2 separate regions of the Homo sapiens genome follow, and region 2 is linked to region 1. Evidence: fine-mapped expression QTL. Tissue or cell type: whole blood. Region 1 holds a variant in brackets; the other region holds the start of a gene. All regions are shown on one strand. Distances are from middle to middle.

Region 1 (8,103 bases):
TGGTTCACGCCTGTAATCCCAGCAGGTTGGGAGGCCGAGGTGGGCGGATCAGTTGAGGTCAGGAATTTGAGACCAGCCTGGCCAACATAGCAAAACCCTGTCCCTACCAACAATATAAAAATTAGCCGGGCATGGTGGAATTGCTTGAACCCTGGAGACAGAGGTTGCAGCGAGCTGAGATCACGCCACAGCACTCCAGCCTGGGCAACAGAGCAAGACTTTGTCTCCAAAAAAACAAATAAAACCAAATAAAACAAAAAACAAACAAAAAAAGAAATAAGAGGACTTTATTTTGTCCAGTCTCACCCTGCTTCCATTCACTGTGTGTCAACAACATCAATAATGAAATGTCGTGAGGATAGCTTTCGGCCCTTTTATTTTTAAATCCCAAACATTTCCAAACCCTGAGGGTATATAAAACAAAGAAAGAATTACATAGACAGAAATAGACTTTGATACAGAGTCCTTTTCTGTGTTGGTGTAACACCAGTGAGTTTTTAGTAGGCTCCATTTCCAACAAAAGTTGTCACTATGCCCTGAAAACATTTCTACTTTTATGGCGGCCTAATTCCTTGGCTTTGGAACTGTTGACACATGGGAGAAACAACTGATCACATTCTTTCAAACAGGTCACATGAATGACAAAGTTCTTTCCCAGGTCACCCAGGTGCTTAGCAAACTCCAGGAGAGCCCATGTGACCATGTCATTGCTGGGTGGTTTTCTTCTTCTTATCACATGGCTTCCAGACCACCATGCATGTTATGAAGCCTGCACAGTTCACTGTGGTCAGGACTGGGCCCAGCAAATGTACCATGACCAGAGTGCTGGTAAGGTTAGGCAGGTTTAATATTCAGCCATACTCTGTAGCTTTCCCATGTTACAGTTTTTACATTTAAAACCCAAGCTCTGAAGAGTTATCTGTATGCTCACATTCCTAGCAGCATTGTCCACAGTGGCCAAGAGGTGAAAGCAAGTGTCCATCCATGGACAAACAAAATGTGGTGTGTACATATGACGGAATATTACTCAGCCTCAAACAGGAAGGAAATTCTGACACACACTACAACTGGAAGAATCTTGAGGACATAATGTTAAATGCAACAAGCCAGTCATAAAAAGACAAACAGCATATGACTTCATTTATATGAGGTTCCTAGAGCAGACAAATTCATAGAGACAGAAACTGGAATGCTGGTTGCCAGGGGCTGAGTGGAGGGGGGATAGGAATTTGTGTTTATGCGTAGAGTTTGTTTTGTAAGATGAAAAAGTTCTGGAGGTTGACTGCCCAACAACGTGAACGTATATGATACTACTGAACAGTATACTTAAAATGATTAAGGTGGCAAATGTTGTATGTATTTTACAATTAAAATGAAAAAAGCAACAAACAAAATCCTGAAGCTTTTCTCCCATCAAGATCCTTCTTTAAGTTGCAGCAAATGGAGCCAGAATATGGCTGAGACATATTTCTGCTTCCTAAAAGTGTTGCATGGTGGATTCCTTCCACGAGGTTTTAGGAACTCTAGTCCGACACATTTAAGGAAAGGTTAAGCATATGGGCTAATTGTGCCTCCATTCATCCATCCATCCATCCATCCATCCATCCATCCATCCATCCATCCATCCAACAAGCCAGTGTTCCAGATGTTAGAGATACATTGGTGACATATACATCCTTGCCTCAAGGAGCTTCCAGTCTTGTGGGAGAATCAGAGAGATGGCCCAATAGAGTAACGTGAGAGCACACACAGCATGGGTGCCCAAATAGGCCGAGTGTGGGGAAACTCCCAAGAGGAAGTAGCATTTAAGCCAGGATTGGAAAGAGGAGTTAGTGAGGCAAAGAGATGGGGCAGAAAAGAACATTCTCAACAGAGGCAACTGCATTTGTGAAGACCCGGAGGCCAGATAACATGGCAAGTATGAGAAACTAAAAGAAAACAAAGACAGCGATAGAGCAGGAAGCAGGTGAGAGGCCAGTCTGAGGAGGCAAGCTGGGGCAAGAGCAGGGGCACGGACATCAACCAAGCGGGAGAGGGGATCTTCTCCATCATGGAAATACATAAAAGAACTCAAAGGAGGGAAATCAACAAAAATATGATGAGAATCACAAGGTGAAAGTTAAAAGCAGCTTAGGAGTAACCGCTATTCTTCATACAGCCTACAGGTTTTGGAAAACTTTATGAGCAGGCCACTGCGCTAGCTGAACTGAGCAAAAATGCAGGCCTGCACACTCAGGGGAGTATGGTCTGCAAGATCACCTCTGTGTGACTTCTGGCGTCATTCTGGATGAATTCCCAGGAGGAAGAGAAAACGGAGGCCGAGGCCGAGGCTGTGGGTGGAGGAAGAAGAGCTACCAAGCAATCACTGCATAATTGACCTTGAGAGGCTCAGTGATTCTCACACTGTGCCTGAGTCCCAGGACTCCACAAAGCCACGTTGGAACCAACATGGAAGCGGGTGGGGCAACGGCAGAATCGGAAACCACAACTGATTCCCAGCTCAGTGTTCTTTGACCTGCACACCAGAAGGATCAGCTAAGAGAGGAGCCGAATCACACTTTAGAATAAAGGAGGGAAGAGATCTTAAGATGGAAGGAGGTAATTTAGATTTGCAAGCCACAAAGTTCCAATGCCTTTACTTCACAATCTACAAGTTGAAATGAAGTTGTGCCCATAGCTGTGTGTGTGTGTGTACATGTGCATGTGTATGTTTAAGTGTGTGTGTATGTGTGTGTGTATGATGTATGTATGGTCCTATGCATGTGTTCACAATACATTTTCACATCCATTTTCTGTTGGAAGCTGCTTCAAATCCTATCTTGGGAAGAGGCAGAGCTGCAGTATGACTTGAAGTAGGCAGTATCTACACGTCAAGGTTCTTGGGGTGACATTCACACCACTGGCTTGAAGGGCCAGATATCCCTGTGAAAGCAATCCACACGGAAAGCTGGACTCTGGCTGTTCCCAGGGAAGCGAAGAACATCACGGACTCAAGGATGTGAGTGTAGGCTCTGTTCAATGGGGATTATCTCTTCGGTCCCAAGAATAGCCAACCAACTGGGGATTCTTCCTGCTTCCCCCGAGCTGACTCCTGCCAGTCTTAGAAACTTGCAGAAATACCCGTTGCGGTTCATATTGTTTCCAAAAGCATTCCCATTTGCCTAAAACAGGCAGCTCAGGCTAGAACAGCAACGTTGGTTTGTTGCCATAGTTCCAGATCTTTGTTCTTTAATATCCGTACAATCTCCTCATATGCCTCTAAATGGATTGCTTTTTGGATTCCAGTGATGTGTTTAGATTTTGCAGCATTTGTAATAATGCCACGTGAGGCAGTGATTACGTGTGTGTGTGTGTGTTCACCCAACCCTATGTCAGTTTAGGGAGGTCATGTTGTAAGACATGGTGAGTACTGTTAGTCTCAATCATACCACAATCTGTAGAGCACAGCCAGGATTGTCAATGTTGAGGGCTGGAGTCCAGGAAGTTCAGGAGCAAAGATGCTGAAGGAGTCACACGATTGGAAACTTCATTGTGGTGGCACTCAAGTCACTGTGACCGGTGTGTACTAAGCAATACCTATGTGCCACTCACATGACAGCCCCTGGGCAGACTGTGGGGAACACAGCCCTCCTCCTCAATGACATAC[A/G]CTAGATGGGGCAGAAAGGGACATTCTCACCCGAGGCAATGATGTACACTAGATGGGGCCTGGGAATCAGGGAGGGCCATGAAGGCACATCTGCATGACGGACACGGCGCACCCTCATGATGGACACGGCACACCCGCACCACAGACATGGTGCACCCTCGTGGACATGCCACACCCACGCCACAAACATGGCTCACCCTTATGATGGACATGGTGCACCCGCACCACAGACACAGCTCTTCCTTATGATGGACACGGCACACCCACACCAAAGACACGCTACACCCACGCCACAGACACAGCACACCCCTATGATGGACACGGCACACCCACACCACAGACAAGCCACACCCATGCCACAGACACGGCACACCTGCGCCACAGACACGCTACACCCACGCTACAGACACGGCGCTTCCTTATGATGGACATGGCACACCCGCGCTACAGACATGGTGCTTCATTATGATGGACATGGCACACCCACGCCACACCCGCGCCAAAGACACAGCGCTCCCTTATGATGGACACGGTGCACACTACGCCACAGACATGGCGCACCCTTATGAGGACACAGCACACCCGCACCACAGACACAGCACATGAAAGGCCAAAGGACAGCTCCAAGCACCTTAGCTTATGACCAAGAAAGCAAGATGAAATAATTTTTGATCTTAAGATGAATCACGCCTTCTGCAGCAGCGTGCCAGACTTGACATGTCTGACTACGCTCTTCTCAGTAAGAAAGGGAGGTCTGTCTTTTTGGTCTTCCCAGCTTCACATCTGAAAATCTGGCCTTCACATTTGTCAGTCCAGTAGCCTGCACAGGAGTTATTCTGACTGTTTCAATGTTCTGGGGAAACCAGTGAAAAGTTTCTCTGAGTGTAAATGAATGTTCACGACCTCAAGAAGTCTGAGGTCCATCCTAGCAGACAGTGAAGGTGGGTGAAGAGATGGATCACAGATTCTTCGTGAATCTTCAATCCTCAAGTAAAATGTTGCAGTCCTATGTGAGGAATTCGTGTATTTACAAAGGCAGTTACAGGCACTGAGCACAGCCACGAGCTGCTATTCTCATAGCAATCTTTTTTTTTTTTTTCTTGAATGATTTCTTTTGAGGAAAATACCTACTTAGGAATCATCACAGATCTTTTTGTTGTCTTTACATCAGTAAAGAAGTGGGTCTTCTGTCTGATTTTGAAACTAGAAACTTTCTGAAATCTGCATTCTGATGATAATTTTAGAGAGTCCAAGTTTGGCTGCCCTGGCTTTGAAAGAACAAAACCAAACTTTGACGACACACAGAATCAAAGGGTTTATGTGTTGCAGGAGAGTCCAAGCCACTCAGATAGAAATTAACCTGCCTAGTAATGAAAAGAAGAAAAGCTCTTTAACAATTTTAAAGGAGGAAAATTTAAGAAGGAAAATTCCAGTATTGCAGGTCAGGGAGAAATGACAGAGCCACAGCTGTTTTAATGTGGGCACATGCAGAATGGAAAGGAATCTAAGAAGGACTTTTTTTTTTTTTTGAGATGGGAGTCTCACTGTTGCCGAGGCTGGAGTGCAGTGGCACCACGTCGGCTCACTGCAACCTCCGTCTCCTGGGTTCAAGCAATTCTCCTGCCTCAGCCTCCCAAGTAGCTGGGATTACAGGCACCCACCAGCACACCTGGTTAGTTTTTATATTTTTAGTAGAGATGGGGTTTCACCATATTGGCCAGGCTAGTCTTGAACTCCTGACCTCAGGTGATCCATCCACCTCAGCCTCCCAAAGTGCTGGGATTACAGGTGTGAGCCACCACACCTGGCCAGAAGGAGGTTTTTTAAAAGTCTGACCAGTTCATGCACGTCTGCCAGGTATGGCCCGGAGGGGAGGAGTTTCACAGCTGCCAAACGACCTCCTGAGGAAGCCCAGAGAGCCAGGACCGGAACACTGGTGAGCTTTCCTAGACAGGGGCACCTTGAAGTCCTTGGCTTGACCGTGAGGCCACTCAGCTCATCCTTCCAGGTCCACTTAGGAATCTCACTGCACACATCTTTGTCAGCAGGGAATTGCAGCCTTGCACTCGACGGCCGTGCTTGCGACATGGAAGATGAATAGGTGGCCACGCTGAACTGTGAAGCCCTGAGGTCCAAGTTCTTTCTCATTATGCCTCCATTTTTCTATCAAGGTGCTCCCTAAGGCTCACATTTAAGTCCACAGAAAGGGACTCTCAGGGTCTTAGAACAGGCTGCCCTCGATCCACCTGAACTGTGATCCAGCAAAGTGTCTGAAAACCATGAGACACTCATATATATTTCCCCCAAGAAAGTTAAGCAGTTAGGGCTTTTTAAAGGTCTTGGAGACATACAATTTTTCAAAGACACAAAAATGTAGACCGCAGAGCAGCAGCATCAGCCAGCGTGCTTGCTTTGACCGTGTCAGTCTTATTTAAATGTTTAGGGTTATCATTGCAAAATGCGAAGTGGAGATAAAGGAGCTGTTAGGGCGGTCAGTACTGCAGCAAGTGCGGCCAGGTCCCAGATTGCCTGGGACTTCCCTGATGTTAGCTATGAAAGTCCTGCACCCTGGGAACCCCTCAGTCCTGCAGAAAACCAGGGCAGTTGGCCACTCCATTAAGGCAGTTTCATTCATTATTTGGTTGAGTTTTCTATCTGTTATCTCAACTGGGTTTTGGTTTCATTTAATAATAGCATCTTGAGAAAGAAAGATGAATTAACTGAGGTGTTTTTTTTTTTGAGCCTCAGTTTTAGTCTTACACCCAGTAGCTTCAACTTCAGGACAGCGTTTTCCTTAGAAATCCAACTAACTCCATTAGCTTGAGTTTGCTGAGAGTTTTTGGTGAAAGTTTTAGAGCTCACATTCTTCAGAGTCTGAAGTGACCTAGAAGACAATGTCATCAAACTTCCTACCCAGTGAAAGAATTCGTTCTCCATGTTTCTAAAACGGACACCTTCCAGCCAGTTTCCCAATGTCTACCTTCAAACACACCCACTAGAACGGATGTAGCCTGAGCGTCTGCAGCAGGGCACCTCTGTGTGATCTGAAAGCTATGCAGGTGTGCTCCAGCTCCTGGACAGGCTGGGCAGCCCCCGCCCACTGTCAACTGGTGGCTGAACATACTCTGTGAGGGAAGCAATGATGTGGACGCTGTAGGTTCATTCACCCCTCCCCACTCTGGTGCTGTCCTTGTTATCCTGCCCCACCACTGGCCTTTAGGAATAACCACAGCTGGGCAGAGTGGCTCATGCCTATAATCCCAGCACTTTGGGAGGCTGAGGCGGGTGGATCACTTGAGGTCAGGAGTTTGAGACCAGCTTGGGCAACATGGTGAAATCCCATCTCTACTAAAACAAAAAATTAGCCAGGCGTGGTGGTGCATGCCTGTAATCCCAGCTACTTAGGAGGCTGAGGCAGGAGAATCACTTGAACCCAGAGGTTGCAGTGAGCTGAGATCGTGCCACTGCACTCTAGCCTGGGGGACAGAGTAAGACTGTCTTAAAAAAAAAAAAAAAAAAGGGAATAACTACAGTGGAAATCTACCATCACTTCCTCCTGTGCCCATACCTCCTTCTCTCAACCTACACAGCATGGAAGTGCAGGGACCCCATCATCCTGAGGCAGCCAGTGCTAACACCTCCTAAGCCTTTGGGGAAGAGCTGAAGGAGGCTGGGAGATGTGGCTGTGGGTGATGGCTGGGGTCAAGACTTCACAGAACCCAAGCTGAGCAGATCTGGGGCCTGGAGGTTATCACTGGCATAAACTTTCATGGAGCTTTCTTAGTCTGAGTTGGCTCCATGTTTTGCTTCTTTTCCCCTCTGATTTCCAGGGAAATTATCACATCCTATGACCTGGCTATTCCATAAGCAATTCTATTCCACTGCTTAGAAACAGAGGTTCTCTCCTAAGAAAAAGGTTTGAGGTTTTCAACAACATGAAACAGACCTGGAGAAAAAGGTTTCCCTCCATATCTTCTATCTGTGGTGTAGGAAGGGTATGTAGATTTAGCTTATGTCCTAAGTAAAGGACAGAGTGAGGCTGAGCTGCAAGTCAAAGGAACTAGGGATTACTGGTCTCCTAAACAATCTATGTAAGGACTGAGCTTGGGGCTCAGGGCTAAAAAAAAAAAAAAAAGGCAAAGACACTTTTGGGGGATGACGAGAAAGGAAAGAGAAATCCAAAGCAATTAAGTGGGAAGGAAAGTGACATCCCAGGGCCACCACCCAGCTGAAGTCCCTTGTCATGATCTTCTGCAAGTAGAAAGCTGCCCCAGTTCTGAGGGAGACACGCAGTCCCTGGGGATCAGTATTCGTGAGGTTCCCAGGCAGCCGACCCATTCTAGGTACATTTTCAGCCTCACACCAGCCCCACGGTGTCCTGCAATGTCAGGTTTCCCCAGTTTCATGACTGGCTGCTTTGTTCTGAAGCCACAGTTTCAAAGAGCAGGTCATCCTGC
Region 2 (8,103 bases), 400 kb after region 1:
GAAACTCCATTCAAATGATCCCTTGGTTCAGATCAGACTTCAAACCACCTCAGTCAAATGTTAAGGAGGTCATTATCCCTCCCTGAACCTCCACCCGCTCCTCCATAAAATGAGGATGAGGAAGCTACCCACCCACCCTCACAGGGTTGGTGAAGCCACACAATGAGACTATACATGCAAAAATATTTCTGTTAAAGTTCTACAGAAATGAAAAGTGGTATCATTATTGATAACAGAAGAACATGCAAAGAACAGCAGCATGTCTGAGTGGTTCTTAAGCCTCACTAAATTAACTACAGCTCCACATAATGTAGACATCCCTATTTCTAAGAGAAAAATAACAGCATCACCCCAGTCCCAAACAGGATTCACCCAATGATTCTAAGCCTTATTAAAAATGACAAGGATCCCGGCCAAGAAGGGGCCTAAAATCTCAAATCGCAAAGGTAGGCATCGTGCTGTCAAAAAAAACCATCATCTAGGAACGACGCATTTTTTTTTTCTTTTAAGGGAGAAAGGAAAATGCAACCACATCCTCTTGCTAGAAAGTCAAACTGCTTTGCTGGAAGTGCTTGAGCCCCAGAGCTCAGCTTCAAGAATGGGAAATAAAAACGAGGTGTTGTGAACCCCACTCAGCCAGAGGTCTTCATGCAGCAAAAGAGGCTCTCAGCCAGGTGCCTTCAATACCTGACGCCGGCTTTCACAGTGTTTCATCAGACTTCTGTGGATGCAGCCAGAGAGCCAGGAAGAACCATCTGAAATGAGCACCGTGCAGCCTTCACAGCTCCCGTAACAGACGCAGAGCTGGAGCTCTGGAGGAACCTTGCTGCAACACCACCTGATCATCAGCAGATGGGTCCAGGTCCCACCGCCACTCATCACGAGTCATGCAGAGGCAGACAGAGCCCATCTCTTGAGGAATCCACAGAGCATCTTAAGTCACCAACAAGGCAGCCAGGTGACCTCATGGGAGACAGATACACACAAAGGGCTAGGACCCCATAAGGCTGGAGCTCCACCCGGATCCTCCCCTGGAATTAACAAGTCCCCCAAGGGTATAGTCTGCCAGTCATCCAGCCTGGCTGGGACATGGTTCAAGTCTACAGGGCTGCCAAATGCCAAGGGCTCAGCAACACAACATCCACTTTCTCCACCTAACTGGCCAAGTTTCAAACCAAAGCACTTCGGGGTTAGTAGTTCAGACTACATAGTGCCAAGGCAAAGCCTCTCTGTGGGCTGATACCCTCTCCCTCACAGAGGGAGGAGGCTGGGCAACGCCAGCACCAGGCTTTCAGGCACATTCCTGCCGGCTTTGGGCCATTCTCAATGTTCCTCAATAGAGGTCTTACCGGCCAGTCTGTATTATGGACAAGCCACTCTGCAGGCTTTTTACCATCACTGGCCAACAGCGCTGAGAAGGGAGAAAGTGCTGATCAACTGTGGCTAAGATATGACTCCACACTGTCCACGCACATGCCACCTGGTGCCCCAGGTGAGTCTTGGCCGGACCAAAGGGATGAAGCAAGAAAATAAATCAGCAGCCTGGAAACAGAGAAATGAGAGCCACCAGAAATCCAGAGGGCACAGCCCCGGAAGGCAGACTGCTGCTGTAGCTCTCCTGGAAGGCCATGGCCCTGCCTGACATGCAGAGGGAAGCGGGTGGGGATTCTGCCCAAGCATCCTGCCCCTCTTAAAACCACAGCACCCTCCACTTCAGTGGCCTCCAACTGCAGACATATGAAAGCGAGACCCTTCCGCTGGAGGACGCCCTGCCCTCCTGGTAGGGTTCTTCCTCTAATCCAACCCCGGACTTTTGGTTGGTACAAAGCACACTACCGGTTCCAGCGTTTGCACAGGGGCACCTGGACACGATGCTCCCGCGGCTAGGGCTGGCTCTCGGCATCCACTAAGTTCAACTGCACCCCTGAATTAAGCAAACACACTAAGGAGGGCAGCCCTGCACCGCCCAAACACGCCGGCCCGGGCCTCGCCCCCAGCGGCAGCACTTCTCAGAACACGTCTTCAACGTCCAGCAAGACGCCCAGGCCTGGCCTGGTAACCTGTCAGGGGTCGGGTGGCGCCGACCCCGCCGGCTGCCCCCAGGCGTCTGCTGGGCCGGGACGCTCCGGCAGCCCAGGACGCGGAGGCACCGAGCCACTTTCCCGCAGGAGAGACTCTATTGTCCACGATCAAATTAACGCTGACGATCTATCTTCCTGGCGGAGCTCGCGGCGCGGCGGGGCGCAGGCGACGCTCGCCCGGCCTTGCAAGACAAGCAGCGCCGCAGTGCTCCCTCGGCGGAGCAGCCGCGTGCCCCGGCCGGCGTGTGTGGACACCCGCACGCACACAGCGCACACCCCCGCCGCGCCGCGGGCGTCCGTGCCTTCCCGAGGCCCCAAGGCGGCCCGGCCCTCACCTTCGATGGCGATGACGTGCTCCCGGATCTGGTTCTGCAGCACCGGCTCCTCCACGCGCTCCAGCAGCTCGTAGATGGAGTAGATGTTGGGGTGGACCGACTCGAAGCGCTGGATCTCGGCCCGGATGGCAGCCGAGTTGGCCAGCTGCTGCTGGTAGTTCATGGTGCAGGCGCCGCGCCCGGAGCCGCGCGCCCCCCGCCGCCGCCGCCCCGCGCCCCGGGGCCCGCGGGCCGCCGAGCCCGGGGCGCCGCAGCCCCCGGGGAGCCGGGCCCGCCGGCGGCGGGCGGAGGAGGCGCGAGAAGAAAGGCGCGGGCGGAGCAGGCGCGGGGCTGGCCCGCGGGCTCAGTTCATGGCCGGGACGCGCGGCCGGCGAGCGAGCGGGCCCCGGCGTCCCGGGTCAGCGGGCCGCCCGGGGGGAGCGCGCCCCCATGGAGCGCGCCGCGGCGGGTGCGGCCGGCCCCGAAGGAGGCTTGCTCGGGTGACTTCCTGAGCCGCAGCCGCCTTCCAGCCCTAGGCGCTGCTCCGCGGAGCAGCCATTAAAGCCCAGGCAGCCGCCGCGCTCCGAGCGCCGGGGCCGAGGGCCGACCCCTGGGCAGTGTGGCCGCGCTGCTCTGGGCTCCTGGCCGTGGCGTGGGTCCGCGCGCTGCGTACTGCGCCGCCCGGCGCGCCGGGGCCCCCGCGCGAGCCCGCCGTGCGCCGCCCGCCGACCTGGGACCGAGTCGCAGGCGCCTTGCAAGCCGCGGAGCCCGCTCCGAGCGCCGCCCGCCGCCTGCCCGGCCGGCCCCCTCCCTGGCACGCAGGGCTCCGGCCCACGTCGGCCCCGCCCCCGCCTTCGCCCTCGCCCGCGCCCGCGCCCGCGCCCCGCCTGCCCGCGCGCTTGCCGCCCTCCGGCCGCCGGCGCTGCGTCCTCCTCGGCGCTTCCCAGCGCGCCGGATCCCGGGGAATTGCGCCAGGCCCCGCCCCGCGCCTGCCTCTGGGCTTCCTGGGACTTGTAGTCCGCGCCCCCGGCGGGCCGGGCCAGGGGGGTGCGCGGGGTGTTCACACTGGGCCGGGGTGCGGGACCCTCCCGCCGGCCAGGCCCCGCGCCTGCCAGCTCCTGCCCGGGTTCTCGCGGCGGCCCCCGCGCCCCGGCACGGGGGAGGCTGCCCGGGAGTTCGCCCGCCGCGTTGTTGTTTGTTTCCAAGCGGCTGGCTCCAGGAGCCTCTGCGACTCGCCAGTGTCCCACGGCCTCGCTTGGTTGGCGAGCCTCCCCTTCCCGCGTTTGGTAACTTTCTGCCTCCTTTCTCAAAGTAGCACACGTGCTTTCCCTTAATACATGCGATTTCTTTCCAAAGGCGAAGCGCCTCCTGAGCCCATGCGGCGTGGGGGTCCACACTCCACGAGTGGACTGAAGTTTAGACAGGGGTGCGAGATGCGACAAAATACCACAGAGGCTTTCGAGGCATCCTTCTCCCTTACAATTTTTAAAAATCGAGCCGTGGATCTCAAGCTGCTGCCTCCTGAGCGCCGCTGCCTGCTCCACGGGGTTCCTTAGCCCCTGGACCGTCTGTCCCACCGCAATCCCCGATTTAGGTCATCCCCGGGGACCCCCCGCGGAGCTGGGACCGCACTGCAGCAGCGCTTGGAAGGCTCGTCTCGCCGCTTTGAGGCAAATGGGACCCTTCAGATTTGCGGAAGCACTGGCTGCCGGGCGGTCCCACAAGGTCCTGGATTGAGGACACTGGCTGAGTCCCTGCCCCCAGCCATCGGCGTGGTCTTTCTGAAACTCAGCCAGCCGGGCCGGCATCCCCGTTTAAAGCCTGCTGAGCCTTCACCGGCTCACATGCAGTTTGCTATGGCCTAAGCACCCTGGTATCCAGCCGTGTTGGCTTACTGGCTGGGCTCCACAACTTCCCAAAGATGTGCTGACATTTTTACCATTCCGGACCTGCTTGTCTTCTCCTTGACACTTAGGCACAGGTCATCACTCCATGCCTCGGGCTGTCCACGCATAAGTAACTCTAGTAACCAAGAGGCAGGCATGTGGCCTCACCAAACCTGACCTATCAGCAGCAGCTGATCACTTGCGCTCCTGGAAACCCCTTCTCCCAGTGCTCACCAGGGCTTCCTGCTGTGTTTCTGGCTTCACTGTCCCTTTTGTGGTTTTCTTCTACTCCCCTAACCTCTAAATATGGAGGGCCCCAGGGCTTATGGTTAGGCCTCTTTTCTTTGCTATTTGCTGTGATCGCCCCTGTCTTATGGCTTTGAATATCATACACAGGTTAATGAAGCTCATATGTATCTCCAGCTGTGACCTCACCCCTGAATAACAAATTCACATCCACCTGCATCCTCAACATTTCCTGAAGCCTAGCTGGTGTTTAAGTCCAGCATGTCGCCAGCTGAACTCCTGCCATCCCTTCCGGCTACATCTCCTAAAAATCTTCTCCATCCCAGTCATCGGCAACTCCAGGCCACCATTTGCTTAGGCGAAAAATTCAGTGCTGTCCTTTTTGCTTATCATTCTCTCATATCCCAAATGGTGTCAGCTCCACCTTCAGAGGATCCAGAATCCCACGACTTCTCACCACTCGGCTGAAGTCAGGATCATCTAGCTGGACCATCACTAGATCTAACAATTGTAATAGCTCACTGCTTCCTACCTGGTGAAACTTACAAAACCTACGTCCGGACTTGTCATGCCTTTTCTCAAAACCCTCCAATGACTCCCATCTGGCCTCGCCCCACAGGCATGAGCTCTTATCAAGAGCTGCTCAGGGGCTGAGCTATTCCCCTACTTGTAAGCTAACAAGTTAGCCTGCCACAATTCATGGATGCTGGCAGAAGACATGAGACTCCCAGATCAGAAACAAAGGACTTTGTTATTCATAATAGTAGCATTAGCTGGAATATCAGCATTTTCATGCACCAGTTTACTGAGACCCAATTCCCACGGGCAACATGAGGCCCAGGTGAAGCCTGTACTTGGAGTCAGCTGCCCTATACGAGTTTTATAAGTTTTTAACCCTTAGCTTAGAGAGCTCAGATCTTTCATACGGGCAGTAAGTGTGTCTGCCCTTCACTCCAGAGGGAGACACTGTTTTTATCATGGACAGTAAGCATGTCTACCCTTGACTGTGGCAGAAAACATTATCTCTGTCTTCCAAGGCTGTTTGCTCTGCAAACATCCTTGAGAATATAGTCCAGAGCAAAGGCGCCTGGTGTCTCTACCTGTGTACCTGTGTTACCCAGCAAGGGCTGCCATAAAAACCTTCCACAGGCCTGGCATGATGCCTCATGCCTATAATCCAACACTTTGGGAGGATTGCTTGAGCCCAGGAGTTCGAGACCAGCCTGGGCAACATGGTGAAACCCCATCTCTACAAAAAATACAACAATTAGCCAGGCACAGTGGTGTGAGCCTCTAGTCCCAGCTACTCCGGAGGCTGTGCAGGGAGGATGGCTTGAGCCCAGGAGGTCAAGGTTGCAGTAAGCTGTGATCATACCACGGCACTCTAGCCTGGAGGACAGAGCAAGACCATCTCAAAAAAAAAAAGGCCGGGCGTGGTGTCTTACGCCTGTAATCCCAGCACTTCGGGAGGCCGAGGCAGGCGGATCACGAGGTCAGGAGATCGAGATCATCCTGGCTAACATGGTGAAACCCCGTCTCTACTAAAAATACAAAAAAATCAGCCGGGTGCAGTGGCGGGTGCCTGTAGTCCCAGCTACTCGGTAGGCTGAGGCAGGAGAATGGCGTGAACCCGAGAGGTGGAGGTGGAGCTTGCAGTGAGCCAAGATCGTGCCACTGCACTCCAGCCTGGGTGACAGAGGGAGACTCCTTCTCAAAAAAACAAAACAAAACAAACACACAAAAAAAACTTCCACAGGCTGCATGGCTTTAACAGAAATCCATTTTCTCAAAATGCAGGAGGCTCAAAGAGCCAAGATCAAGCTGTTGCAGGGTTGGTTTCCCCTTGGCTTGTGGATGCTGCCTTCTCACTGTGTTCTCACAGGGTCTTTCCTCTGTGTGTCTGTGTCCCCATCTCCCCTTCTTAGAAGAACTCCATTCATATTGGATTAGACCCCTTCCTAATGACATCGTCTTAGCTTAGTCATCTCTTTCAAGGTCCAATTTCTGAATATAGTCATATTCTGGGGTACTGGGAGTTAGGACTTTAATATATGAATTTTGGGGACATAATTCAGCCTATGACTGTCTCTCTCGCCACAGCATCTCTACTTCTAGCCTGTTCTCTCCTCTTCGGCCACACTGGCCTCCTTGTTGCCCCCTAAATATACCCATCACACCCCCACCCTTGTCATCTGCTTCTCTGTCTCCCTGACCCCTTCACCAGGACTTTTGTTTCCTTATGTATTTGCTCCAAAGCCACCTTCTCAATGCGACTTTCCCTAACATCTTCTCTAAAATGGCATCCCTGTTCCCCAACACTTCATGTCCCCCTTCCTTGCCACAGTAGAAAGAATAATGGTCCCCTAAGATGCCCACATCCTAATCCCTGAAACAAGTAGATATGTTAGTCTAAGTGGCAAAGGACTTTACAGGTCTGATTAAATTAAGGACCTTGAGATGAAGATATTATCCCAGATTATCTGAGTGGGCCCAGTGTAATCACAGGAGGCCTTATACGAGGAAGGCAGGAGGGTCAGAATCAGAGGAGATATGATGACAGGTGTAAGAGAGAGAGAGAGGAGAGGAAGGCAAGGGAGAGAGAGAGATTGGAAGATGCCGCTGGGCTGACTTTGAAGATGCAGGAGGGGGCCACCAGCCAGGGAATGTGGGCTGCCTCTACAAACTGGAAAATGGAAGAAAACAGATTCTCTCCTAGAGATTCCAGAAGGATCACATCCCTATTGACCCATTTTTGGACTTCTGACCTCCAGAACTATAAGATAATAAATTTTTGTCATTTAAGCCACTAAATCTGTGCTAATTTGTTATAGCAGCAATGGGAGATTAATGCACTTGCTTTATGTTTTTCTTAGCACTTATTCCCGTCTAACTCACCATATACTTTAGTTATTTATCTTGTGTATGGTTTGTGTCCCCCATTAAAACATAAGCTCCACAAGGGCCAGGATTAATTTTTGTCTGTTTTGCTCCCCATTCTATTCCAGTGTCTATAACAGTAGCTGACACATAGTAGCTACCCAATAAATGTTTGGCAAACAAACAGCTTCCCCATTAAATTATAATTGTCATGAAGACAAGGACCATATTTCTCTTGCACAGGGCTTGGAGCATTATAATGCAACAAACGTTCAATAAATTAATTAATCAACAATATCTCTCCTATGGTAAGAGCTGTTCTCTCATCATGCCAGGCACATAGTAGGTGCCTAATAAAGATTTGCTGAATTAAAATGGAAGTTTCTCCAGCAACATGGGACCCAGTGACATTTACCAGGAATGTGCTGCAGATTTATCTTCTGTGAATAGAGCCAAGAATTCTAGCCGTGTGTGTGTGTGTGTGTGTGTGTGTGTGTGTGTGTGTGTGTGTGTGTGAGACGGTCCTTCCAGGCACTTATAAGCTCTGAGTGAAAACTCCACTGTGAGAGCAAGCCAAGCCTTAAAGTAGTGAACGTCTTCTGTCCCAGAAATATCAAAGATGGTTTGAATGATCAGCCCATTCATTTGTTCATTTATTCTGTCACTTATTTATTCATTCAACAAATCTGTATTGATCAT

The links. PIP is the estimated chance that this variant, and not a neighbour inherited with it, causes the effect.
Region 2: it holds the start of AGAP1, and the variant in region 1 is fine-mapped to the expression of AGAP1 in whole blood (TOPMed, PIP above 0.99).

Annotation. Positions count from the first base shown.
Region 1 is chr2:235,889,225-235,897,327 of GRCh38, reverse strand. The region is part of intron 10 of AGAP1 (ArfGAP with GTPase domain, ankyrin repeat and PH domain 1); the gene reads right to left. Among named protein-coding and RNA genes, the nearest start is that of GBX2-AS1, 270 kb to the left of the region's middle. RefSeq lists an enhancer at 3,934-4,434. The variant A/G (reference allele first, on the strand shown) is at 3,647.
Region 2 is chr2:235,489,163-235,497,265 of GRCh38, reverse strand. AGAP1 (ArfGAP with GTPase domain, ankyrin repeat and PH domain 1) reads right to left here and starts at 3,223. Exons shown (of 18, transcript NM_001037131.3): 1 at 2,417-3,223. The coding sequence starts at 2,579. RefSeq lists an enhancer at 1,096-1,969.